Linked DNA regions of Homo sapiens. The protein of the gene in region 1 purifies or fractionates together with the protein of each later gene. This does not show direct contact. Each region holds a gene or a part of one and is shown in the gene's direction. Other genes may lie near its edges. The genes, in order: GSPT1, MAP4, SLK, GNS, DYNC1I2, SMS and DHX29.

Region 1 (3,329 bases):
ACATTTTTAAAAAATAAGTTATGTTTGCTACTAAAACATTTACACTGTTAGACTATTATGTGCATGTTGCCAAGACTCTTAAGTAACTTGGATATCAACTGTGAAGGGCCTACCTCTAAAAAGTAACAGGTCATACAAATACAAATGTAACTGTAAAAATTCCACTGGATTCTTGCATATTTGCAAGATTAGATTATTCAAAAGAAATTTCAGTGCTAAAATTAACCAGCAACATAAGTTCTATGGGCTTTGAAAATTGTTCTCATCTTTTTAAAGTTGATGCATTTTCAATCCTGCTTACACAGGCTGTTCATTTGGATAAGTAAATAAAATGTCTAAGGTGAACTTGGCATTATGTGGAGATGTTGGACCGTTATAGAGCAATACAAATTCCTATGCTGTCATTCTGTTTTCTGCAAATGCAAACGTGCTTATATGGTCAACAGTGCAAAAATAGGGTAGTTGGCTGCATATTTAGGGTATTACCTAAGCATTTGTTCTCTAACGTTGCTCTACTAGAATGATTTTTTTCTTGCATCTTTTCACATTAATGATGTTCTTTATATAACTTTCATGCGATTATTTAGTTTTTTAAATTAATAAAGTGAATTTAAGAAATATTGAAATAAACATCTAAGTAATTGCCATTTTAAACCCTTGTTTCTTACTGTGGGAGAGGGGGAAATACAGCACTCATTTCTTGTTTTTAATTTGCAGAAGTAAGTGAAAATCTATGTAAAATCAAACCAAAAGAGTTGGACTGAGTGTGTATTGTCTTGAGATTAAGTGACAAATAGTAAAGTGTTACTGAGTAATTAAGCCCATGTATTTTTTTTTTGTGAGTTGAAAATCTTTGAAATATGTGATAACCGAATGTCAAAAGTTCCTAAACTCTAACAGTGCAGGTTGTTCACTGTAACGAGGTAACTCATATTTGCTGGTTACATAAACTACAAGTACTGCTCTCACAATATGGGACTTTGAACTGTGATGTAGTTCAACAGTTGCCGGCATCCTCTCAGCTGATACGCTGCGAATATTTTGGGTTAGACTTGCAGCCAGATGCAGTTTTGCAACCCAAGAAAAAAGTTGAACCTATGATCAAAAACTGCTCCCAAGATGAACCTGGAAAAAAATCAGCTAAGCTCCCTTGGCGATCTGCAGGAACACTAGTAATGACTGGAATTACTCCGTGATCTTTGATGACTATTACACATAACAGCACTCTAGCACCTTTTCTTACTGGCATGGACTTCCTCATGGACTGCTACTTCATGGATGATAGCTTCATTGCTTTGGGTAGGGATTTAAGGTAGTCAAGGGGAAAATACGCAGTTTTATTACAGGTCTTAACATCAGGCAACTTTCAACTTTAAAACCCTTTGTGAAAAATGTGGTTATAGCACTATAGCTCTGATTTTAGGATGGTTAAATGTTATATTCATTGTTGGCTTACCTTATCAAACTGTGCCATTAATCCTTTCACAGACATAGGTAAGGAAGAGAACAACCAGTGGATTCAGGGGACAATTATCTATCTCCAAATAATAGGCTTTTATTTCTTGCAGCTAACTTTTTCAGTGATTCTAGCAGATGCCATCTAGTACATCCTTGATCTTGTTTCTTTCGTGAGAGATCTCGCCATGGCAGCATCTTGTTAAGTAAGTGTAATTGCACATGCACAAAAGACTTAACTAGCTTTACATTTAGCAGTCAGTTGGTTAGATTAGGTTTCATAGTAAATGAATAGGAATAGAAAGAATAGGAAGTGTTTTTATTTTCCAGTAGTAATTCCGTGGATTCCATTTGACCCAGTTTACTATCAGTTCAGTTCAGGTAGATTTGGTTCAACTTTTGGTGGTTTTTGGCTCTAGGATATTCTTGACTTTAATATCCTAGAACTTACTGAGTCTTCCCTTCAATAAATACACTTCTCACATACCTCTAATCCTATGCTTCCTTGAAACAATAATGCTAGCTGAGTTGTTTACTAAGGATTATTATAAGGGCCTGAAGGTGTGGGAGTGGAGATTAATTAAAACCTTTATGTTCTCCAATATAAGGGAAAAGCAGGTTGGTACTACTTCTGATTAGGCAGAAAACACCAGGATTCCTTAAGTGATCCTTGAAATGGTTATTGTTTTCTGCCTTGTCACATTTGCCACTGTGCCCTTTAAAACGATGTGGAAACCTCAGGTTTGTGGACAGCACAGGTGGAATGACATCTTGTGCTTCCTGAGGCTCCCCTCTACCAGGCACATTAGCTTAGTGCTTCAGATGTCAGCCCAAGTCCTTGTTACCTCCTTTTCCTGCTGCCCAGGGAAGAGTGTGTGTGCTGGAGCTGGAGCGCTTGCACTCTTCAGGTGACTATTCTCACCTCCATTTCCTCCACATGCATTAGGTGAAACTGAGGTCTAAGCCTCCTGCAAGGTCTACATTTTAAGGACTCACACATCAGGCTCTCAGAAATGTACACAGGTATTAGTTCTGTTTGTTCTAAAGGAAATGTGGGTATCTCTCAGGCCAGGACTTAGTGACTAGTTTTCGCTAGACAGCAGGTTAATACCTAGATCTCATTTAAAAAAAAAAAAAAAAAACAGGATTAAAGGGAACTGATCAGGTTTGTTGAGTTTTTTAGCCTAATTCCAAAGCATGGAAGAGTGCTCTAGGTAGGAAAGAAAGCTTTTTCTTACGATTTGTAGCTACCTACTGTGCCTGACTTGGTGCCTGTGTGAGGATTAAGCCCTTAGTCTGCTCTTGCAATTATTCAAATGACAAATTAAATTTGCTTTTGTAATAACAATAAAAGTTGTCATCTTCCCTTTTGAAGGATTTGTCGTTTGTAATTACCTGTGTTGTAACAAGCAAAAACCATGCCCTTTTTTGTACAATCCTTTTATTTTTGTATCAGGTACTGGAACCATCTACCAAAAGGTTTGTTGGATGGATCTAATAAGCTCTGTCACATAAGGGATTCACAAACGTCATCTGCTTGCATATGGCATGCAAGTCTTTTGTATAATGTATACGACAACCTTAGGAAACAAAAATAAGAACCCTATAGGAAGTTAGGGATGCTGAATAATAAATAACTAGATCACAGTTATGTGGTTTTATGTGAACAGTAGAGTTGGGGGAAACGTCAATTATTATTAGAACTATGAACCTCTACATTCAGGATTTTTAATAAAGATCAAGAGACCAAATAGTGCTTGCCCTTTTCATTCAATGTGCAAGGGCAAGAAGAAGTTAATGATAAAGGTAACATACACAGTGGCTACTTGAATGACAGCAGTTCATTCCTGTGTACTAAGTTCCTGTTTGAACTG
Region 2 (3,500 bases), on another chromosome or scaffold:
AAGTGTCCAGGTGACAATCTTAACTTCCAGTTTAATGGAATCATTGTTGTGTCTCCTGGTGGCAGCATTCTTCCCTCTGGAATTAAGACCTCTAGGCCAGCAGAACATAATGTTGCAGGAGAGGAAGCAAAAATTTTGCTAGTGGATCACTAGGGGTGATGGTGAGTGGTGCCACTTCCAGTTCCACCCCTCGATTCCTGGACCTGTGAATCCTGGCTATGGGAGAAACAGTACCTTATATTGGACGCTGATTCAGAGGATACACGGCCTTCTGGAGGACTTTCCCACAGTTCTGCAAAGTATTGTCACCTAGTTGGCGTTGTAATTGTGACTTCAATAGGCCATTCCACTGTTCTGTCAATCCAGCTGCTTTAGGATGATGGAGAGCATGGTAAGACCAGTGAATTCCATGAGCATGAGCCTACTGCCGCACTTCTTTAGCTGTAAAGTGAGTGCCTTGGTCAGAGGCAATGCTGCGTGGCATACCATGATGGTGGATAAGGCATTCCATGAGTCAGCTGGGTGCGGTGGCTCACGCCTGTAATCCCAGCACTTTGGGAGGCCGAGGCAGGCAGATCACTTGAAGTCAGGAGTTCAAGACCAGCCTGGCCAACATGGTGAAACCCTGTCTCTACTGAAAATACAAAAATTAGCTGGGTGTGGTGGCGGGTGCCTGTAATCCTAGCTACTTGGGAGGCGGAGGCAGGAGAATCACTTGAACCCGGGAGGCGGATGTTGCAATGAGCCAAGATTGTGCCACTGCACTCCAGCCTGGGCAACAGAGTGAGACCCCTTCTCAAAACAACAACAACAACAACAACAACAAACCAAAAAAACATTCCACAAATGGTAGTCTTGGTAGAAGCATTGCATACAGGATAGGCGAACCCATATCCAGAGTAAGTGTCTATTTGAGTGAGGACAATCCTCTGCCCTTTCCATGATGGAAGAGGTCCAATATAATCAATCCGCCACCAGGTAGCTGGCTGATCACCCAAGGAATGGTGACATACTGAGGGCTTGGTGTCGGTCTCTGCTGCTGGCAAATTAGGCACTCAGCAGTGGCCGTAGCCAGGTCAGCCTTGGTGAGTGGAAGTCCATGTTGCTGAGCCCAAGCATTACTTCCATCCCTGCCACCATGGCCACTTTGTTGGCCATGGGCGATGGCAGGGGAAAGAGGCTGAGTGGTGTCCACAAAATGGGTCATCCTATCCACTAGATTATTAAACCCCTCCTCCGCTGAGGTCACTTGTTGGTGAGCACTCACATGGGATACAAATATCTTGTCTTTGACCACTCAGAGAGGTCCATCCACATACCTCTTCCCCAAATTTGTCACCAAGTTTCCAATCATGCTCCTTCCAAGTCCCTGACCAGCCAAACCATTGGCTACAGCCCATGAATGAGTATATAATCACACATCTGGCCATTTCTCCTTCCATTCAAAGTGCACAACCAGGTGCACTGCTCGAAGTTCTGCCCACTGGGAAGATTTCCCTTCATTGTTGTCCTTCAGGGATGTCCTAGAAAGGGGTTGTAGTGCTGCAGCTCTCCACTTTCGGGTGTTGTCTGCATATGATGCAGAACCGTCTGTGAAGCAGGCCCTAATCTTCTTTTCCTCTGTCAGCTGATCATAGGGAACTCCCCATGAGGCCATCAGTGCAGGCTGGGAGAGAGAAGGCAGGGTGGCAGGAGTGGAGGCCATGGGCATTTGAGCCACTTCCTCATGTAATTTACTTGTGCCTTCAGGACGTGCTTGAGCCCGATCACGTATATACCACTTCCATTTGATGATGGAATGCTGCTGTGCACAATCCACTGTATGGCTAGATGGGTCTGAAAGCACCCAGCTCATGATAGGCAGGGCAGTTCAGGTCGCATGGTGACTTGATGACCCATAGTCAAACATTCAATTTCCACTAAAGCCCAGTAACAGGCCAAGAGCTGACTCTCAAAAGGAGAGTAGTTAGCTGTAATCAGCACTTTGGGAGGCTGAGGTGGGCGGATCACAAGGTCAAGAGATCGAGACCATCCTGGCCAACATGGTGAAACCCCATCTTTACTAAAAATACAAAAATTAGCTGGATGTGGTGGCACGCACCTGTATTCCCAGCTACTTGGGAGGCTGAGGCAGGAGAATCGCTTGAACCTGGGAGGTGGAGGTTGCATTGAGCCGAGATCGCACCACTGCACTCCAGTTTGGCAACAGAGTGACACTGCGTCTCAAAAAAAAAAAAAAAGGAGAGTAGTTATCTGTAGAAGATGGCAGGGCCTTGCTCCAAAATCCTAGAAGTCTCCATTGCGATTCACCTATGGGAGCCTGCCAAAGACTCCAAACAACATCCCCATCTGCCACTGACACATTAAGCACCATTGGATCTGCTGGGTCATATGGCCCAGGTGGCAGAGCAGCTTGCACAGCAGCCTGGACCTGTTGCAGAGCCTTCTCCTGTTCTGGACCCCACTCAAAACTGGCAGCCTTTCAGGTCACTCAGTAAATGGGCCGGAGTAATACACCCAAATGAGGAACGTGTTGCTTCCAAAATCCAAATATGCCCACTAGGCATTGTGCCTCTTTCTTGGTTGTGGGAGAGACCAAACACAACAACTTATCCTTTAACTTAAAGGGAATATCTCAACAGGTCCCACAACACTAGATCCCTAGAAATTTTACTGAGACAGAAGGTCCCTGAATTTTAGTCGGATTTATTTCTCATCCTCTGGCATGCAAATGTCACACCAATAAGTCCAGTGTGTTTGCTATTTCTTGATCACTGGATCCAGTCAGCATAATGTCATCAATGTAATGGACCAGTGTGATATCTTGCGGAAGCGAAAAGCGATCAAGATCTCTCCAAATAAGATTATGACACAAAGCCGGAGAGTTGATATACCCCTGAGGTAGGACAGTAAAGGTATATTGCTGGCCTTGCCAGCTGAAGGCAGATTGCTTCTGATGGGCCTTATGGACAGGAATAGAGAAAAAGGCATTTGCAGAGTCAGTGGCTGCATAGCAGGTACCAGGAGATGTGTTAATTTGCTCAAGCAATGAAACCACATCTGGTAACAGCAGCAGCAATTGGAGTCACCACTTGGTTAAGCTTATGATAATCCACTATCATTCTCCAGGATCCATCTGTCTTCTGCACAGGCCAAATGAGAGAGTTAATGGGGATGTGGTGGGAATCACCACTTCTGCATCTTTCAAGTCCTTGATGGTGGCACTGATCTCTGCATACCTTCCAGGGATGTGATATTGTTTTTGATTTACTATTTTTTTAGGTAGAGGCAACTCTAAGGGCTTCTATTTGGCCTTTCCCACCATGATAGCCCTCAACCTAGCAGTCAGGGAGCCAGTGTGGGGGTTTTGCCAGCTGCTAAGTATGTCTATGCCAATTATGCATTCTGGCACTGGGGTAATGACCACAGGATGAGTCCAGGGACCCACTGGGCCCACTGTAAGTCAGACCTAAGCTAAAACTTCATTAATTACCTGACTT
Region 3 (3,594 bases), on another chromosome or scaffold:
TAATTTTCTTTTGGTGGATCAGCTCTCATAAAAAAGCTATGATTTGCTCAAATATGCTGTTGACTCAGTAAATGAATATATTTTTTTCTTTAAATAGGAACAACCTCTTTTAAAAGAGAAAAATTATTTCAGTGATTTGTCAAAACGAATTACCTCTTTTGGCATGAGCTAATAATTGAGGGTGCTAATTTTCTTAAGATAGTGCCTAAAACACTAAATTTCAGTCAAGTCGTAAGTAGGATTTTCTTTTTGATCAACAGGGACAAAAACATCTTTAGAATTAAAAACATGGTTGTTTTGGAATTTTTGCTTCTCTTACCGTTTGATAGAAATTTTCATCCTAAAATACATGTACAAAGTTTGGAAAGATGAAAAAAAGAGGTAGCTTTTAGATTGCAAACTGGAAATGTAAAACTCATGAAATTTAAGCAATATAGGTTTAGCTATCTGTGTTTATTTTCTAAAATAATACCTGAGCTGGTTAAATGATTTCTCTCCATCTTAGCTAATTCTGTTTAAAACTCTGTCAGAGGCCTGCAGGCTGTGAGTTATATTTATAAATATATCTTCAGAAATTAATCTTAAAAGAGGCATTAGTTCAGAATACTTTTTTAAAAGTTTAAATTAAATATTTAGGCACGTCAGGAATTACTTTTCCTTATTTTGAAATGAGGCTACTTATGTCTTGGTTTTATTTTGTTCCATGTTTAAATCATTCACTTTGATTTGAGTGGGAAAAGCCTGAAGCCTTTATCATGTGGTTGCTGGTGTGTGTAATTATTAATGAAATGTTCACTCCTAGTCCCTTATGAGGCTTAGAATTTCAACCACGTGTCAGGTCAGACAGTATTATAAACTGTACTTTGCTGTCTGAGACAGCACATTTGTGAATGATGCTTGCTGCCTGCCATTTTCAACCTATTCTCTCTTAAGAGTGCTAGGTACCAAATTGTGAAAGTTTGTTTTCAGTTATATTACTTTTGAGGCTGGTGAAAAATTTAAATGTAACTTTGTGGGAACACTGATTCATATTTAGAAAATGTAAATGTCTGTAGCACTTTCTTGCAGTTAATTTGAAAACTTTGGATGCTGAACCTTGTTTGTCAGTGATTTAGATGATTTAAAAATGCATGTGTGATTTGAATTTTATAATTGTTTTGACAAGCATAATTTACTTGGACAACTTCGTAGGTAGCCTTAACTTCTGGCCAAGTTTGTTTTTTATATAAATATATATACATATATACATATTATGTATGGTTGTAAATTCATACACTTATCACATGAATGTGTTACTGTATACAAAACTCTTAATGCTTTATTCTCAAATGCTGGGTTGAAAAATGTTTTGAAAGCCTTTTAAAATATATATCTTTATAAAGTAATATTCAGGATGATGATAAAAATTGTTTATATTGTTATGATAAAAATGACAGTATAATGTTGCCCAGTGTATTTAATGATTTATTTGAAGAGGGATTGGGAAGGAACGTCTTCATACCACTTTCTCCTTTGAAATTTTCAGTTTATTGACTTTTAAAAAATGAATACCTCAGGCAGTAGACATTTTTTTTCTAGTATCATTTAATTGATACCCTGTGCGCTAAATAGTGTGTGGTGCCTGATTAATTTGGTCTGAATATTTGATTCTTTCTGTTCCTTTCAACTTGACATTCAGATTATTGACTCAAGGAGAGAGGCTCAGAGTGGAATGGTTGGCGCTGTGGGTAAGGTTGGATCTCCCTTAAAACTGCCTTTTGGATTCAGTGTTTGTGCTTGAGTTCGCTTTCAAATATGACCATAATCGTGTGGGTGCAAGACTGTACAGTGATACATATGTAGAGGTAAAGCATTCATTTTAATACTTAAAGTTATATAAATCTTTTCAAAAAGTGTTTTGTTATAAAATACGCTGTTTGTACCCATACCAGCCCACCTCTTCTGAGGCCCTGTATTCAAATAGATGATAGTGATCTATCTTTCCTGCATGAAGTGTAGGTGGCGAGTGGGCGAGGGGCGCAGACTTCTTTGAAATCGAAGGGTACAGTCAAATCTACTGCTGATTTGGTTGTTTTGTTGCTGTGGCAGAATATGCCATGAAACACATACAGACTTCTCCGAACGTGCACCCTCATCAGCCACCTCCTCCCCTCTTTCCCTGAGTGCTGTGAACACAGCAGACCTGCACACTTCTGCAGATCCAGCTCCTACAGCTTGGGGCACTAGGCTGCCTTTCCTAGTCCTGTCAACAACCATACAGTGCGAATTGCTGAATTAGCTGCTATTCTATGTGGAGTCACATTAAGCTTTTTCTTATCTTTTTCTATGGGGAAGCTATAGGGTGGGTAAGGAAAAAATGTTGAATGCTTTTACTTTGCTGAAAATATTAGAACTCTCTTGTGACAGGATACAGCAAATTATAATTAAATATAAATTACCAGAACCAGAGCTACCTCTAAGTCATACTTCCTCAAGCACAAAGCTCTCAGGCATATGAGACCCACCTTAATGAAGGGTCTCTGATTTCTTGAGCATCAGCGAGTTTCAGAAGTGACTATTTTTTTGTACTCTTCTAGTTTCCTTGTAACTATACACTTTTTCCCATTCCACACTGTGCTTAAATGACAAAGACTCTTCTGAGAAGCCAAATTCTGTCCAAGTATTAACTAGAGATATTGTTGATTAAAGAAAATCTAGAACTGAAGTGAAAGAAGAGAGTTCCAGTTCTAATAGTCTTTTGATTAACAATTCTTTTCTGAGAAATGATTTTTATAAGAAATGGGGTGATTCTTTAAATGCTTTTCTTAAGTTGAAGGCACAACAGTTAATGGCTGTATTGTTGCTATTCCGTTGCTGACATGTTTTTGATAAAGCTTTAACATTCCTGCTACTAATTTTGGCGGAGAGTGTTTGCCAGGTTTCAATGTGGGCTGCAGCTTTTTGTGCTCCTTCTCTGGTTTGCAGTGTAATGAGTTCATAAGCTAAATTTTCAGAAAGAATTTTGTTTAAGATTATGCCTCTTATCTACTTGAGAGCAACATGTCTTTTCAATCATGGGATTGACACATGAAAAATAAAGTTATTTCTTAATCAATTTTGGGAAGCAGTCTTTTATTGAGAATCTTTGAAACTGGAGTGTCCTGCCTGAGAACACTTTGCAGTTGTTGGTCCTAGTTATATTGTAAAACTTGCAGTCCCCGCAGGTCTTCTGACCCTTCCAGAGTTAGTATTCCTAGCTGTGTGTAGTCCACAGCATACACGCAAACACACACACACTCAAATGTAGTTTTTAGTGATAACTTGCTGGGGGTTGTCTTTCAGAATGCAAACCCCTCCTTTGGGAGGTGCTTAAAATATTTCTATCAGCCTATGTATATATGTGTATGTTTTTAATTTCTTTTCCTCTTGGGATGGATGATTTTTCTCACCAAGCATTTCACAAATCATATGACCTCACTTCTGCAAAAATAGTCTCTTCGTCATTGATAACGTTCATGCAAGATTCAGTAGACGCTAGGCAGCATCACTCGGCACGTGTCCAGCTGGAGGGAGGCATGGAGTGTCATTTTCTAATCTGGGAGCGTTGTGCACTAT
Region 4 (3,500 bases), on another chromosome or scaffold:
ACAGAGGATCTATTCCAGAACCCACAGTGGATGCGTGAAGCCCCAAGGATAGTGCCAGGCCCAGTTGCCATCAGTTGGAAGATGTTTCTGTTCATGTCTTCTACCCACAAATTTTATGCCTTTTCCATCTTAACTAAGCTTTTGTCATGCACTGTGGCCCTAACTTTTGCAGTTTAAGGTGTGGCAGCAAAACTAGAATTCGTTTTTCCTTCTTCATGATTTCACAGATAGAAGATTCATTCCTGGCTGGGCGCGGTGGCTCACATTTGTAATCCCAGCACTTCGGGAGACCAAGGCGGGCAGATCACATGAGCCCAGGAGTTCTAGACCAGCCTGGGCAACATGGTGAAACTCTTGTCTCTACAAAAAAAAAAAAAAAAAAAAAAAATTAGCCAGGTGTGGTGGCGCACGCCAGTGTTCCCAGCTACTCTGGAGGCTTAAGACAGGAGAATCACTTGAGCCGGAGAGGTGGAGGTTGCAGTGAGCTGAAATTGTGCCACTGCACTCCAGCCTGGGCGACAGACTGACTCTGTCCCCCTGCCAGCGCCCCCACCAAAAATGACTCATGTTTATGGTGAGGCTCTTGTAGGTCTTAGCAGTCTTGCTGTATGATTTTTTTCTTTCCTTATTAAGTCAAGAGCGTTCACTTTTTCACTTAAAGGAAGCACTTTATGGCTTCTCTTTGGCATTTCTGAATTGGCAGCACCACTACTCTTGTGGTTTGGAGCCATTGTTAAATAAAATCAGGGTGACTTGAACACAAGCACTGTAATAATGTAACAGTTGATCCACCCCTACTCCCTCAAAAGAAAAAAATCTCAAATCTTGCTGCCTTCTGACACCTTTCAAGACTAACCTACTTGTTTTTCTCCTCTTGACTTGCACTGTGTGACTTTGTGTGTGCTGACTGGTGATAGAAATGTTCGGAACTGTCGAGGGCTCATGTTTTGTACCATAGACTTTCTCACTAGAGTCCCTTCTGGTGATTTGTTTCTTTTACACCCCTTCCTGCTATCCTTTCCACTGAATAATATTCTGAGTGAGAAGCTAGTGAGAGCTAATGTTACATTTGGTTTTTCCTCCCCAGATACAGGTTTGACCCCCGTCTCATGTTCAGCAATCGCGGCAGTGTCAGGACTCGAAGATTTTCCAAACATCTTCTGTAGCGACCTCACACAGCCTCTGCAGATGGATCCCTGCACGCCTCTTTCTGATGAAGTGATTGTAGTAGGTGTCTGTAGCTAGTCTTCAAGACCACACCTGGAAGAGTTTCTGGGCTGGCTTTAAGTCCTGTTTGAAAAAGCAACCCAGTCAGCTGACTTCCTCGTGCAATGTGTTAAACTGTGAACTCTGCCCATGTGTCAGGAGTGGCTGTCTCTGGTCTCTTCCTTTAGCTGACAAGGACACTCCTGAGGTCTTTGTTCTCACTGTATTCTTTTTATCCTGGGGCCACAGTTCTTGATTATTCCTCTTGTGGTTAAAGACTGAATTTGTAAACCCATTCAGATAAATGGCAGTACTTTAGGACACACACAAACACACAGACACACCTTTTGATATGTAAGCTTGACCTAAAGTCAAAGGACCTGTGTAGCATTTCAGATTGAGCACTTCACTATCAAAAATACTAACATCACATGGCTTGAAGAGTAACCATCAGAGCTGAATCATCCAAGTAAGAACAAGTACCATTGTTGATTGATAAGTAGAGATACATTTTTTATGATGTTCATCACAGTGTGGTAAGGTTGCAAATTCAAAACATGTCACCCAAGCTCTGTTCATGTTTTTGTGAATTCTAGGCTGGTGCTGCACTGAAATAGAGCAGTAAGCTTGTGATAAAGGCCAATTCCAGGTAGCTCTTGAAGGTGATAGCCATCTACTTTCCAGTGGCTGCCAACCACAGGGAGTGCCAGTTAACACTGGAAGGATTAAGGCAAGGTCCCTTCTCTTGAGACTCCCCTCTGAGATCTGAAAAATGAAGTGGCTTAGGAACATCAGCAGTGAAGAACTGCCAAGAGTTGGTGAAGGTTGTCTCTTCCGAGGGCCTTCTGAAGACAGGGCTCTTGAACAGACAAGTGGAAGGGCTGTACCAGGGATAAAGGAAAGAAGTGCCTGTCCAGCAGGGAGCTTGAATTTAAGTTCCATGTATGAAGTCATTGGCTCTATCTGCATTTTTCTGTCATTCTCTTCATTTGTTTTAAGGTGGAAAATTTTCTTACAGTTGATGCAAAGTATCAACTACTTTACCCTACCTTCTCCCCTTTTAGATGGGTTCTTCCTGAGTTTTGGAGTCTTGTATGATTATCAGTATTCCCCTGTCAAAATCAAATCTATTCAGGTTTCTTCACTGTTGAGAACACCTAAATGTTTTTATTTTTGAGAAGTGGGGACAGAGTCTCACTATGTCACCCAGGCTGGAGTGCAATGGCATGATCTCAGCTCACTGCAACCTTCGCCTCCTGGGTTCAAGCGATTCTCCTGCCTCCGCCTCCTGAGTAGCTGGGATTATAGGCACGCACCACCACGCCCAGCTAATTTTTTGTATTTTTAGTAGAGACAGAGTTTCACCATGTTGGCCAGGCTGGTCTTGAACTCCTGACCTTGTGATCCACCCACCTCGGCCTCCCAGAGTGCTGGGATTACAGGCATGAGCCACCACGCTTGGCTAAGAACACCTAAATTTTTATGTTTCTTGGCTCAAAAACCAGTTCCATTTCTAATGTTGTCCTCACAAGAAGGCTAATTGGTGGTGAGACAGCAGGGGAGGAGGAAGAGCTGTGGTTTGTAACTTGTTCAACTCAGGCAATAAGCGATTTTAGCTTTATTTAAAGTCTTCTGTCCAGCTTTAAGCACTTTGTAAGACATGGCTGAAAGTAGCTTTTCTATCAGAATTGCAGATAGTCATGTTGGGCTAACAGTCAATTGGATATATTCCTTTACCTCACATGACCCCAGCAACTGTGGTGGTATCTAGAGGTGAAACAGGCAAGTGAAATGGACACCTCTGCTGTGAATGTTTTAGAGAAGGAAATTCAAAAAATGTTGTAACTGAAAGCACTGTTGAATATGGGTATCGGCTTTCTTTTTCACTTTGACTCTTAACATTATCAGTCAACTTCCACATTAATGAAAGTTGACCATAGTTATTTCCAAATAAAAAGAAACCAACTCTTACCAGGTCTTGGACTGTGATGTCATATTATTCAGTTTTATGCTTGTTCCTGAGCAGAACTCATAAGAGTGACATAGTCAGCTGCTGACGGCACCTCAGCCACGCCACTCTTACTCAGTTCAGTGGGTGTGCTTGCGTGGTAGGATGTGGTGCAGCCCTCTCTACGCTCTTCTATTTTTGGTATATTTCCTATCTAACCTTCAAATAGCTTCCAATTCTTTTTTTCTTGGACTGGCTTCATTCTGAATTTGTGCTAAAATAATCTTTCATAAAGAGACCTCAGTTTATAGCGTAACAGACTACACAATGCACTGATGTTTTCATA
Region 5 (4,117 bases), on another chromosome or scaffold:
CAGGCTGGAATGCAATTGTGTAATCTCAGCTCACTATAACCTCCGCCTCCTGGGCGCAAGCCATCCTCCTGCCTCAGCCTCGTGACTAGCTAGGACTACAGGCGCATGCCACACACCCTGCTAATTTTTCTATTTTTTGTAGAGACGGGGTTTCACCATGTTGCCCAGGCTGGTCTCTAAGTCCTGAGCTCAGGTGATCTGCCTGCCTCGGCCTCCCAAAGTGCTGGGATTACAGGTGTGAGCCACTGCGCCTGGTCCATTTTAGCTGTTACCACAACACCCATCACCATTGCTGGCACATGGTAGGCAATCAATAATAATTTTTTTTCAAATTAATACATGAAAACTATTAGGAAAGAAGTAAAAAAATAACATAGCTATAAAGCTCTTTGAATGTTAGGTTATTGGGAAAAGCTGTGGAAAGCCAAGGATTTTCTTTCTCAAATTTATTTTTAGAATATTTTTTTCTACACAAAAGACCACAGATAAGGCAGAGAAAGATAAGAAAAAGACCACAAGCCCAAGGACTTGGAATTTGAATCATAAAGGTTCATTCTAGACTTGGGCAATATCTAGAACTTCTAGAACAATCAGTTTTCTAGAACATAGAAAAGATATTACCTTGGTGTTAGCTTTAACTCCTGCCAAATAATGCTTTAAATTATTTAAACTTTAAAAAGGTGTGTCAATGTATACATTGCAGGTAAATTCATGTTCCAGTAACTTTTGTTTTCTTTGTATGTTAAAAATCTAACTGTGGAAAACATTCTAGCTTGGTTTGAGAGTCCAATAATACAAAATGCTTTATTTCCTAAAATTGTTTGAGAGAAAACCAAAATGCTACCACACTGCAACAAAATACTAAAGAATTATTTGCTATGTCAGTTGACATATTTTTATTTAGATTTTGCCTAAGATGCCACATGAAGCCTATATAAGACATTCTTTCCCTAAAACTTACATATGTATGTACATATATATATATAATGTTTTACATCCTAAACAGTCTACTTCACGTCTTCACCAAATGTGCAGCAGCGTGATTCACAGGTTCACCACTGGAAAATAGACCTTAAAATTCCGCCAATATTGGGTCAAAGATCTTACACTATAACACATACTACACTGTGGGCACGGATCAACAGACGAGAATACTTTATACAGAAGCTTCTCGACGGAAGAAGGCCTTGGAGTGGGAAATCTAAAGGAGGGGACACACTACATGTCCCAGCACACCTTGCGACGCCCAGCGACCACAATTCCCAGAACGCACTGCTCGTCGCACGCAGGTTTTCCTTGTTGCCGGGGTTTGTAGTTCTTCTCGATCGTGTCAGTTTGTAAGGCGAGGGCGGAAGTTGGATTCCTGGCCTGAGAATATTAGGCGTAGTTTTCCAGTTTTTGGCAAAGCGGAAATACTTAAGGCCCCTGGGTTGACTGGGTTCTTTGTTTTATCTACCGGCTTCTGCTTTACGACAGGTAAGTCACGGAGGGGCTACAATTCCTCGCAGCAGGGCCCCACCTTTTATTTCTGGGAGCGACCTCGTTCTGGTGAGGCTATTTGTCCCTAAGCTCTCGCCGTAGCAGCCGCCGCCCATCCCTCTTTGTGTGCTTTGGAAAGCCGCGGAGCTGGTGGTGGCTACAGTTGGTGTTGGGGGCTTAGGCGAGGGACGTTACCGGGAAGTTGCAGGCGGGAGGACTCTTCCCCATCCAGTCACCTGACAGGTGGGTTGACTGTTCTTCCCTCAAGGCCTCCCTGCCTGTGTTCCACGTCGCAACTCGAAGGGCGGCTTGGCAGTTCCTGCTGACATCCCCGCCCGGCCCAGCTTTGGGGAGGAAAGGCGGGGAGACCTGGGTGCGGTGACTCATTGCGGCCCGGCGAGAGGAGTCCACTCCTTTCCCTTCTCGACCCTCCAGAGGCGGCCTGGGGAGCCTTGAGGCTTGTCCGGCGCCCACTGGCTTCTTCCGGACGCCCTGCCGTGGACCGCGCCCTCTTGGCCGTGACCCCAGGGGAGAAAGTGATTCGTTTTCGCCTTGCCCCATTTTACAAATTAAGGCCATCTCTACTTGCCTTGATAGTGTCTCCCCTCACCTTATGTGTGATGGAAAGCCCCCGAACACGGAGGTTCTAGCACAAAACTCTAGAGACTCTCTTCTCTTGAGTTTTAAGAACGTGAACATGTCGGTCATGGAGGAAGGCTCTGGCTTCTGTGAGGATGAGAGGATTGGTCAGCTGTAGTTCAGCTGGTCAAGACTTTGTTGTTGGGCTTTAAAAATGCGCTTATTTTAATATCAATTAGTGTTGGTATATCTGTTTTACAGTTGACGTTGAACAAAATATAATGTGCCTAGCGTAGCATACAGTTACGTATGGAAGTTCTCTTCACCAGCCGTTTGTATGGAGCTGTTTAGAGGTGTAGAAAGAGTGGAATAAGAAACACGGTCTCTTGCTTTTAGTTTGTTCAAACAAATCTTGGAAGATATTGTGTATATATTTCAGGTCTGCTATGTCAACTTTTCATCCTTTTCGTATGCTTGAAAATTATCAATTCGCTTGCCAGTCTTAATGGAGTTTAGTAGCTGAAATTTCCTTTATCCACTTCTTAGTAGGTGAATTTCTCCTCTTGACTGACTTACCTTTGTTCAGATTTAACAATTGTGCTTTTTAAGAGATTTCCCCTAACCTCTGGAAATACAGTTTTCCAGAGGTTATTCTCCTAGTTTTCTTGATCTAAAGCATTTAATACTTCACTTGTACAGAGACATTGAAAGAGATTGATCATTAGGCAATAAGTCAATCATGTGGAGAAGGTAAGGAGTTCCTGGCTCCTGCCTTATGCTCAGCTGCTAGGCTACTTAAAAAAAAAAAATCCTAATTCATTATTTCTTCCTAAAACTCAAGCTGAAGTAGTGTTTATGCAATTGGTTTTTGAAGCTCAGATTGTAATTGTGTCTACCGTATCCATTATTCATTAGCCAGTGTCAATTGTAATGTTAAGGTCATTCTGCTGGATGTTGTGAAGGCAACAAAAATAACTAAAAAACAGTCCCTGATTTCAAGTACATTACAATCTAATAGGGAACATTTCAGGTATGTCCACAAATAATTGTACTAAAAGTGCCATCAGAGGTATACGTAAGGTGTTATTGTGGAGAAATACAGTCATATGATTTGATAGCTAATGATGGTAACTCCTGCGTTTTGCTTTAGTATTACTACAGCACTTTTAGAACTTACAGGAAAGTTCAGTTTGACCTATTGTTTTTTATCAAGTTTCTATGAATGCAATAGAATTGGTAATAGTTTTGATCTGTGTCATATAGCTTAAGAGCTTCTAAATGCCAAACCATGTCCTCTGTTTTAAGAGCCAGTTTTGACCTTTATCTTGGGTACCTAATATATTGTCATCAAAAACTTTGAGACATTGTGTTCAGTTTGTGTATGCGAACATTAAAGTGCTTACTATGGGCTAGCTACTATGCTCAGCTCTAGGTAATATTTATTATATATATTTGTTTATACATTTTTTAAGTCTTAGTAATAATATATATGCTTCCTTTATTTTATCTTTTAAAAGTTTATTTTTTAGAGACGCTCTGTTGCCCAAGCTGGAGTGCAGTGGCATGATCACGGCTCACTGCAGCCTTGACTTCCTGGGCTCCAGCAATCCTTCCAAGTAGTTGGGACTACAGGCACATGCCACCATGCCGCCTAATTTTTTATTTTTCTTGCCTTTTTTTTTTTTTTTTTTTTTTTTGTAGAGATGGGGTCTTGCTTTGTTGCCCAGGCTGGTCTCAAACTCATGGCCTGAAGCAGTTCTCCCACTTTAGCCTCCCAAAGTAAGCTACTGCCCAGCCCCATTATTTTAAAAGTAAGGTTTTTGTGCTTTTTTGAGATAGCATTGAACTATATGGCCTTTCGGGACAGTTCTCTTCTTGGAACACTAGTTTTTTCAACTGTGCTGCTTTTACTAACATAATGATTATATGTTTCTAAGGTCACAAACATGTCAGACAAAAGTGAATTAAAGGCTGAGTTGGAACGTAAGAAGCAGCGACTGGCCCAAATCAGAGAGGAAAAGAAGAGAAAAGAAGAAGAAAGGAAAAAAAAAGAAGTATG
Region 6 (3,500 bases), on another chromosome or scaffold:
TCCACAAATGATTGGTAGTTTCTCCCCGCAAGACGCAGCCCTAGTAAGAAAGCAAAAAGCTTAACTGTATACTTTTGGGGAAATAAAGAGCAGTGGTCTTTTAATTGGGTGACATCTCTCTCTCTCTCTCTTTTTTTTTTAATGCCCCGATACAATTCTTAAGCTTAAAATTATATTTTCCTTTGTAGCTTTGCCAATTTGAGAATTTACCCACATGGATTGGTGTTGCTGGACCTTCAGAGTTATGATGGTGATGCGCAAGGCAAAGAAGAGATCGACAGTGTCGGTTTTTCACTTTCATTTACTCAGTGTTTAAGGATCATAGTATCTGCTTAGCTTAGTGTTAAAATAATGTTCTCTTCATTGCTTACTTTCCAGTTAATTTTAAACTTTCCTCCCTCCACATAAGTGATTTTAGAATAGAAGTAGTTGTTTAGTTGTTTTTAGGAACCTGGGTGTCAGCGTTCCCTTTTAACTGCCTTAGTATGAGTAATCTTATTTTCCACTGGAGGGAATAGAAAACCTTTAACCAGGATTTTATAGCTGCAGTACCCTTTAGCCTTCCTCTTCCGTGTTACTTTGTTGCTAACTTACGCTAAGGTTAGGTCAGCAACATGAAGGGATAGTTGGTATGGGAGAGTGGAATTGGGCCAGGCGTCTACAGGCTGCTAGAGGGTAGGAGGAGGGACAGGTCAATCTTGCACAGCTCTGTCAACATGGCCTCAGTCGTTGGGTCTGTAATTTAGTTCTTCCATGCAGCTTATTCTACAAGCCCATTGATTTTTCTTTTAATTGTAGATTTTGAACAAAGTAGAGGAAAGAATGAAAGAATTGAGTCAGGACAGTACTGGGCGGGTGAAACGGTAAGTCCACTCTTGAATGTCCTTTTATATTTAATCGATTGAAACAATCATAGTTGGCTGGGCGCGGTAGCTCACACCTGTAATCCCAGCAATTTAGGAGGCCGAGGCAGGCGGATCACTTGAAGTCAGGAGTTTGAGACCAGCCTGGCCAATGTGGCAAAACACCGTCTCTACTAAAAATACAAAAATTAGCTGGACGTGGTAGTGCATGCCTGTAATTCCAGCTACTTGAAAGGCTGACGCATGCGAATGGCCTGAACCGAGGAGGCAGGAAGCAGAGGTTGCAGTGAGCTGAGATCATCGCACCGCTGCACTCCTGCCTGGGTGACACAATGAGACTGTCTCAAAAAAAAAAAAAAAAAAAAAAAATTCAGAATGGCAGTGTGGTCCCCAGTAGTGTCTGCTTAAGATGTGGAAAAGATCAAACTCAGCACCTCCTTCTGGCAACATGGTGAACTGAACTACTGGGCCCCTCACACCAAAACAAGACAGTGTATGAACATTCATGTGCATGGATGCACACACACAAATGCTAGGTAAAATGAAACTAAGGCAGAAAGGGGATATGGACCAACTCCAAGGAGTTGGAACTGCCTAAAGTGGAGACCCAGGTAGAGCTGCCACCTCATCAAAGGGAGCTAGAAAACTCCTGACTTCAGTTCGAGACCAGCCTGACCAACATGGGTGAAACCCCGTCTCTACTAAAAATAGAAAAAGTAGCCAGGCGTGGTGGTACGTGCTTGTAATCCCAGCTTCTCAGGAGGCTGAGGCAGGAGAATAGCTTGAACCCGGGAAGCGGAGGTTGCAGTGAGCTGAGATCGCACCACTGCGCTCCATCCTGGGCAACAGAGTGAAACTCGCCTCAAAACAAAACAAAACAAATACCTGACTTCAACCTTTCCAGGAAAGAGAAAAGGTCACTTTTTCTCCTTCAGGCTCTAGGCCCCAGAGTGAAGTTAAGCAATTTTAAGAGACTTCCGACAGGGTGGGGTGATAAGAAAATTTGCCTCAAGGCGTTCAAAGAAGAAAACTTTCCAAGATACTAAGAATTGATAGGCCACCAACTTTAAGCTGCCATAGGCAGGTTATTTTCAAGTGATCATGAGGAAAATGAAGCTCTCCCTATCCAGTGGGATGGGCACTAGCCCCACATGGCTATTTAAAGTTAATTAAAATACACAATTCAGTTCCTTAGTCACAATAGCTAGTGGTTAGTGTCTGCCATGTGGGACAGTACAACTACGGAACATTTTCATCATCCAAATTTCTATCGGACACTGCCGAAGTGTTTGCCAGTGGTGTCAGATTTTAAAAGAATGCAATTCGGACATCGTGGGAAGGAACTAGTGTCTGGTACATCATGGGAATTAAGAAGTGCTTTGGATACACAGCATGCAAATGCAGGACAATTTACTCTTGCCCTGCCTTGGTGGATCCTCATCAGGCCTTAAGGCATAGAAGGCCTGTCCCTTGCTCATAAAATTAACCTCAGTTGCAGAGACCAACACAGAGGGACTTCCTCATTGCTGAGCAACGGAAATACAGGTTTCTCCAGTTCATGGCACTTTCCAGAAGAAGGAATCCTTATTGGCAAGTGTTAGGATGTTTAAGTACTTAATTACTCAGCATGCTAAGTTTGATCAGCCCACAAGAAAGCTCCAGAGCAGATGTAAGATAACTAGGTAATTGTTTAACCTTCTGTAGTTAAAGAGGAAAGCAGGAAACTGAAAGTGAAAAGAAGACGCCACAGTATAGAACTATTTTTTTGAGATCTGTTAGAGCACTCAGGCTCTTTTGGAGCACCCAAGCTCAGTTTAGGGTCCCCAGCCATGTCTCTTACCCTTCACCTTCCTTTAAAAACACATCCACACCCATATACCCATACCACTTTTTGGACATTTCATCTTTTCCTGTTGGCAGGGTTTTCCTTATCTGCACCCATTTGGAATGAACAGGTTCCCCACTGTCAGAAAGGGTCTTAACTTTATGATAATGAATTGGTCCACATCAAAATGTGGTCTGATTTTTATCAGTTGCCTCTAGGAGTGAGTAAACAGCATACATTTATGGGCTTCAGCATTCATGAGAAGTCTGGTTCTTTTCCTTTTTTGGTATAGGAGTTTTCTAAGAGTGGAGTTAAGCTTTAGATCTTCAAAATACCTTGCTTATGCTTGTCACAGTTTTTATTATCTTTTCATGAAATAAGGTTGACGACAGCTAGAAATTGGGTATACCTTGTTGTAAACCCTTTGTTACTGGCCTCAAAAGGACAAGGATTGCTATCCTTTTTTTTTTTTTTTTTTTTAAATCTGGAGAATAAAGATCAGAGGTTAAATGTTAGAGATTAAATCATTAACAAATAACCCAGTAACATTATCTGAAATTATTCCCCTTTGATAAGTTAAGTCTGAATTTTCGACTAAGAAGCTATGGGATGTACTTGAATTTATTTTTGTTTTCTACTTTCAAGTGAAAAAACAAGAAAACAAGGTCACATAAATTAACTTTGATTTTAAAAGGTTCTTGCAATTTACACAGTATACCTAAGGCCTGGGCTATAATCTACCTGAATTGGTGTAGTCCAGTTTCATTTTTCAGCAGTGAAGGTTGAAACGAGTTTGGTAGGGTGCTCTACAG
Region 7 (3,500 bases), on another chromosome or scaffold:
AAGTACACCCATCCTCAGTAAATCGAGATTTGCAAACTCATGGATGGCTCTTATACCAGGAGAAGGTGAAGTACTCATTCCTAAATTCCAGTATTCAGAGCATTATTCTGCAAGTCATTCATAACAAGTTAGGATGCCCTAACAGGTATTTTATTTGGTTCTCAAATTGAGCTATTCATTTTTGTTAATATTTGAAATCAAGATGCACATAGCTTCTCAAACAAAAGAATGCTTATTTTCTCTTCAAAAACAAATAGTAAGGTTTCTACTCTGCCCATCATCTTTTCTACTTGGAATAAAGACAGTAATAGCAAATTGATGTTGGTTAATAATGTATCAATCCCCTTAGTATTTCATTAAAAGGTGCTGCCTCAGAAGGGAATAAAAGACAGGTTGTATGTGCTATTTCCAAATAAGGGGAATATTGGATGGTGTAGTAGAACTGTGGATGATTTGCAACAGTTTCGGTCAAGTATCACCTAAGATAATTTAATAGCAAATATTTATAGATTACAATGAAAACAACCTTTTGAATTGGAGCTGCATGACCACTCCATTTTCTTATTTTTTAACATATGGTAAAGGTTAAGATGGCATTTTCTCTTTATATTTTGGGTTTTTGTTACCTGTCTCATTCACACATTTTTTAAGGCAGTATGAGAAGAAAAGGGAACATAAAGAATTGAAACATATTTCTTCTCCCTTTACAAAAAGTGCCTCCATTTTGTTTCTTGACCTTTAAAATAACAAAGATCCGTAATTTCAAGCACTGGCTTGAATAACTCTCAACATTTATCAAACTTAAATGTAAAACGAGAGATTACTGATTGATGCCCATAGCTGAATGTTGGTTTAGAAACCAGCAACTGAAAATCATAATTTTAACATTAATTATTTAATATCATTAGCATATAAAATTGCTTGTACCTAGTTTCCTTTATGTTCAAAGTATATAACTCAGCCTTAGCAATAATATTTAAAATGCCTTTTCATAGCATTAATGCACAGGTGGTAATAGTAATTATTATAAAATTGATAAATTATGCACATAAGAAAATGAAAATGTAGCTTTACAAATACTCTGAGCTTAAAATGTAGAATAACAAATTGTAGAAAAATGCTTACTTGAAAAAGATAAATGACCTCCTTCTATTTTTATATTTTGAAGTTATTTTCCCCCCTTTTTCCCATGTAGATAAGGTATGCCAGAGTGTATTTGAGAGAAACTACCCTAATAACCCCTTTTCCAGTTTTACTTTTTGGTGGTGATATAGAAGTTCAGCACCGAGAACGTCTTCTTTCTATTGATGGCTGGATCTATTTTCAGGTACATAGTACAACTGATTTTATTGATTATTAAAAATTTTCAACTTCCAGTACCATTGAGGTACATTTTTTAAATTTTATTGGAGTTTGCATAATTTCTTCTTAATATGAGTTAAGTAGAATTCCTTATTTTATCTTGCCTCTGTGGTTTTAAATCTGTTAAATTTGGAAATCAAATTATATTGCTATTACAAATTCTATTTATTATTAATAACAATTCTAGCTTTCTATGTGTTGGGTACTTCAATAGTTAACTTTATGTGGATTTTCCCAAATTAATATCCTAGCAACCTTGTTAGGTAATTTCTATAGTTTCTTTTACATAGAGACACTCAAACACAGTGAGAAATTAAATAATTTTCCCAGGATTTACGTGGATTGTTACTGACAGAGCAAGATTCAAATCTAGGACTATTTGATACCCAAATTTATTCTCATTCCACTACATTGTGGAATAAAAAGGAATAAAAAAGACCAAACAGATTTATAGTTTATAATTCATACTGTTGAATTCTTCTCTGGAAAAATTAGACCAACCTATGCTTATTTCTGGCAATAAGTTTATCTGTTTCTCTGTACTCCCATCAAGATTGACCAGCTTAAACTAAGCAAACCTATTACATTGTTAGGTTATTCTATGATAGCTGTTTGTCTAGGACTGGAGAGGTGAATTTTAAGTGCAGCTTTACAATTATATGCAGTTTGTGCAAAGAAATTGGGGTGGTGGAAATGTTTTATAACTGGATTGTGATGGTTGCACAATTCTATAAATTTACTAAAAGCTATTGAAATTAGTGAAAATGAGTGAATTTTTATGGTAATTTTTATATCTCAATAAAGCCGGGTGCCATGGCTCATGCCTGTAATCCCAGCACTTTGGGAGGCCGAGGCAGGTGGATCATGAGGTCAGGAGTTCGAGACCAGCCTGACCAACATGGTGAAACCCTGTCTCTACTGAAAATACAAAAAATTAGCCAGGCATGGTGGCAGGCACCTGTAATCCCAGCTACTCCGGAGGCTGAGGCAGGAGAATCGCTTGAACCTGGGAGGCGAAGGTTGCAGTGAGGCAAGATTGCGCCACTGCACTCCAGCCTGGGCAACAGAGAGAGACTCCATCTCAAAAAAAAAAAATTTCCCTCCCCAAAACTGTAGTCTTAACTTCCACAGAGTTGATATAAATAGAGAAGAAAACAATTATTGGAGTAATAGTTGCCTTATTTTGGGAAGAGTTACCAGATTTAATAAGGAAATTGACAGGTTTGCATGCCTAGCTAGCAGAAATAATTTGTATTTTTCCCATTGTGTTTTCCATTAAAAGCAAGATGTGCTAAGGCAGATTGTAATATAGGCTTGCCTTGATTTACTTAAACACATTCACACTGCCCTGGATTGACTTTGTCCATTTTTTCAACTCCTCTTAACAGGCCCCTGTAAAGATAGCTGTCATTTTCAAGCAGCTGAGAGTTCTCATTGATTCAGTTTTAAGAAAAAAGCTTGAAAATCCAAAGATGTCCCTTGAAAGTAAGTGTTTGCTTATAAGTGAAAGACCATATACACATATGTGTATGTGTACACATACCTATGTATTAATGTGTGGAAAAACTTTCTAAGAGGCCAGGCACGGTGGCTCACGCCCATAATCCCAGCACTTCTGGGAGGCCAAGGTAGGCAGATCACCTGAGGTCAGGAGTTCGAGACCAGCCTGGCCAACATGGTGAAACCCTGTCTCTACTAAAAATACAAAATTAGCTGGGCATGGTGGCGGGCACCTGTAATCCCAGCTACTCGGGAGTCTGAGGCACAAGAATCACTTGAACCTGAGAGGCGTAGGTTGCAGTGAGCGCCAAGATCACATGATTGCACTCCAGCCTGGGCGACAAGAGCGAAACTCCATCTCAAAAAAGAAAAAAAGAAACTTTGTAAGAGAAAATCTGAAATATTCTAGAAATTTTTTTTTGTAACATTGGAGTATACTAAAGCACACTGAAGTCGTAAAAAATCCCATCTACTTTATGCTGAATTCCATCAAACTCAATTAGTGATTATTCACAGCCTAATTATCCTCTTAAGGTTTAGTTTACTCCTGTCTCTTTTAAACTTCATTTCTAAACTTCTAGCCATTTCATAGAAAAAAAGGTTAATAAAACTGAGCATAGTAAACTTTGTTACTTATT

What was found.
Region 2: the proteins of GSPT1 (region 1) and MAP4 fractionate together in Homo sapiens (co-fractionation; one large-scale study listed by BioGRID). This does not show direct contact.
Region 3: the proteins of GSPT1 (region 1) and SLK fractionate together in Homo sapiens (co-fractionation; one large-scale study listed by BioGRID). This does not show direct contact.
Region 4: the proteins of GSPT1 (region 1) and GNS fractionate together in Homo sapiens (co-fractionation; one large-scale study listed by BioGRID). This does not show direct contact.
Region 5: the proteins of GSPT1 (region 1) and DYNC1I2 fractionate together in Homo sapiens (co-fractionation; one large-scale study listed by BioGRID). This does not show direct contact.
Region 6: the proteins of GSPT1 (region 1) and SMS fractionate together in Homo sapiens (co-fractionation; one large-scale study listed by BioGRID). This does not show direct contact.
Region 7: the proteins of GSPT1 (region 1) and DHX29 purify together in Homo sapiens (affinity purification with mass spectrometry; one large-scale study listed by BioGRID and IntAct). This does not show direct contact.

What each region holds. Positions count from the first base shown.
Region 1 is NC_000016.10:11,867,628-11,870,956, reverse strand, and holds the end of GSPT1 (eukaryotic peptide chain release factor GTP-binding subunit ERF3A), read left to right. Parts: 3' UTR 1-2,829; downstream 2,830-3,329. UniProt on the Homo sapiens protein: GTPase component of the eRF1-eRF3-GTP ternary complex, a ternary complex that mediates translation termination in response to the termination codons UAA, UAG and UGA.
Region 2 is NC_000003.12:48,006,417-48,009,916, reverse strand, and holds part of MAP4 (microtubule-associated protein 4), read left to right. Parts: intron 1-3,500. UniProt on the Homo sapiens protein: Non-neuronal microtubule-associated protein. Promotes microtubule assembly.
Region 3 is NC_000010.11:104,026,140-104,029,733, forward strand, and holds the end of SLK (STE20-like serine/threonine-protein kinase), read left to right. Parts: 3' UTR 1-3,094; downstream 3,095-3,594. UniProt on the Homo sapiens protein: Mediates apoptosis and actin stress fiber dissolution.
Region 4 is NC_000012.12:64,714,407-64,717,906, reverse strand, and holds part of GNS (N-acetylglucosamine-6-sulfatase precursor), read left to right. Parts: intron 1-1,087; coding exon 1,088-1,166; 3' UTR 1,167-3,500. UniProt on the Homo sapiens protein: Hydrolyzes 6-sulfate groups in N-acetyl-d-glucosaminide units of heparin sulfate and keratan sulfate.
Region 5 is NC_000002.12:171,686,152-171,690,268, forward strand, and holds the start of DYNC1I2 (cytoplasmic dynein 1 intermediate chain 2), read left to right. Parts: upstream 1-1,317; 5' UTR 1,318-1,476; intron 1,477-1,603; exon of another isoform or gene 1,604-1,722; intron 1,723-3,995; 5' UTR 3,996-4,004; coding exon 4,005-4,112; intron 4,113-4,117. UniProt on the Homo sapiens protein: Acts as one of several non-catalytic accessory components of the cytoplasmic dynein 1 complex that are thought to be involved in linking dynein to cargos and to adapter proteins that regulate dynein function.
Region 6 is NC_000023.11:21,971,709-21,975,208, forward strand, and holds part of SMS (spermine synthase), read left to right. Parts: intron 1-188; coding exon 189-282; intron 283-798; coding exon 799-863; intron 864-3,500. UniProt on the Homo sapiens protein: Catalyzes the production of spermine from spermidine and decarboxylated S-adenosylmethionine (dcSAM).
Region 7 is NC_000005.10:55,259,195-55,262,694, reverse strand, and holds part of DHX29 (ATP-dependent RNA helicase DHX29), read left to right. Parts: coding exon 1-65; exon of another isoform or gene 66-145; intron 146-1,195; coding exon 1,196-1,327; intron 1,328-2,750; coding exon 2,751-2,847; intron 2,848-3,500. UniProt on the Homo sapiens protein: ATP-binding RNA helicase involved in translation initiation. Part of the 43S pre-initiation complex that is required for efficient initiation on mRNAs of higher eukaryotes with structured 5'-UTRs by promoting efficient NTPase-dependent 48S complex formation.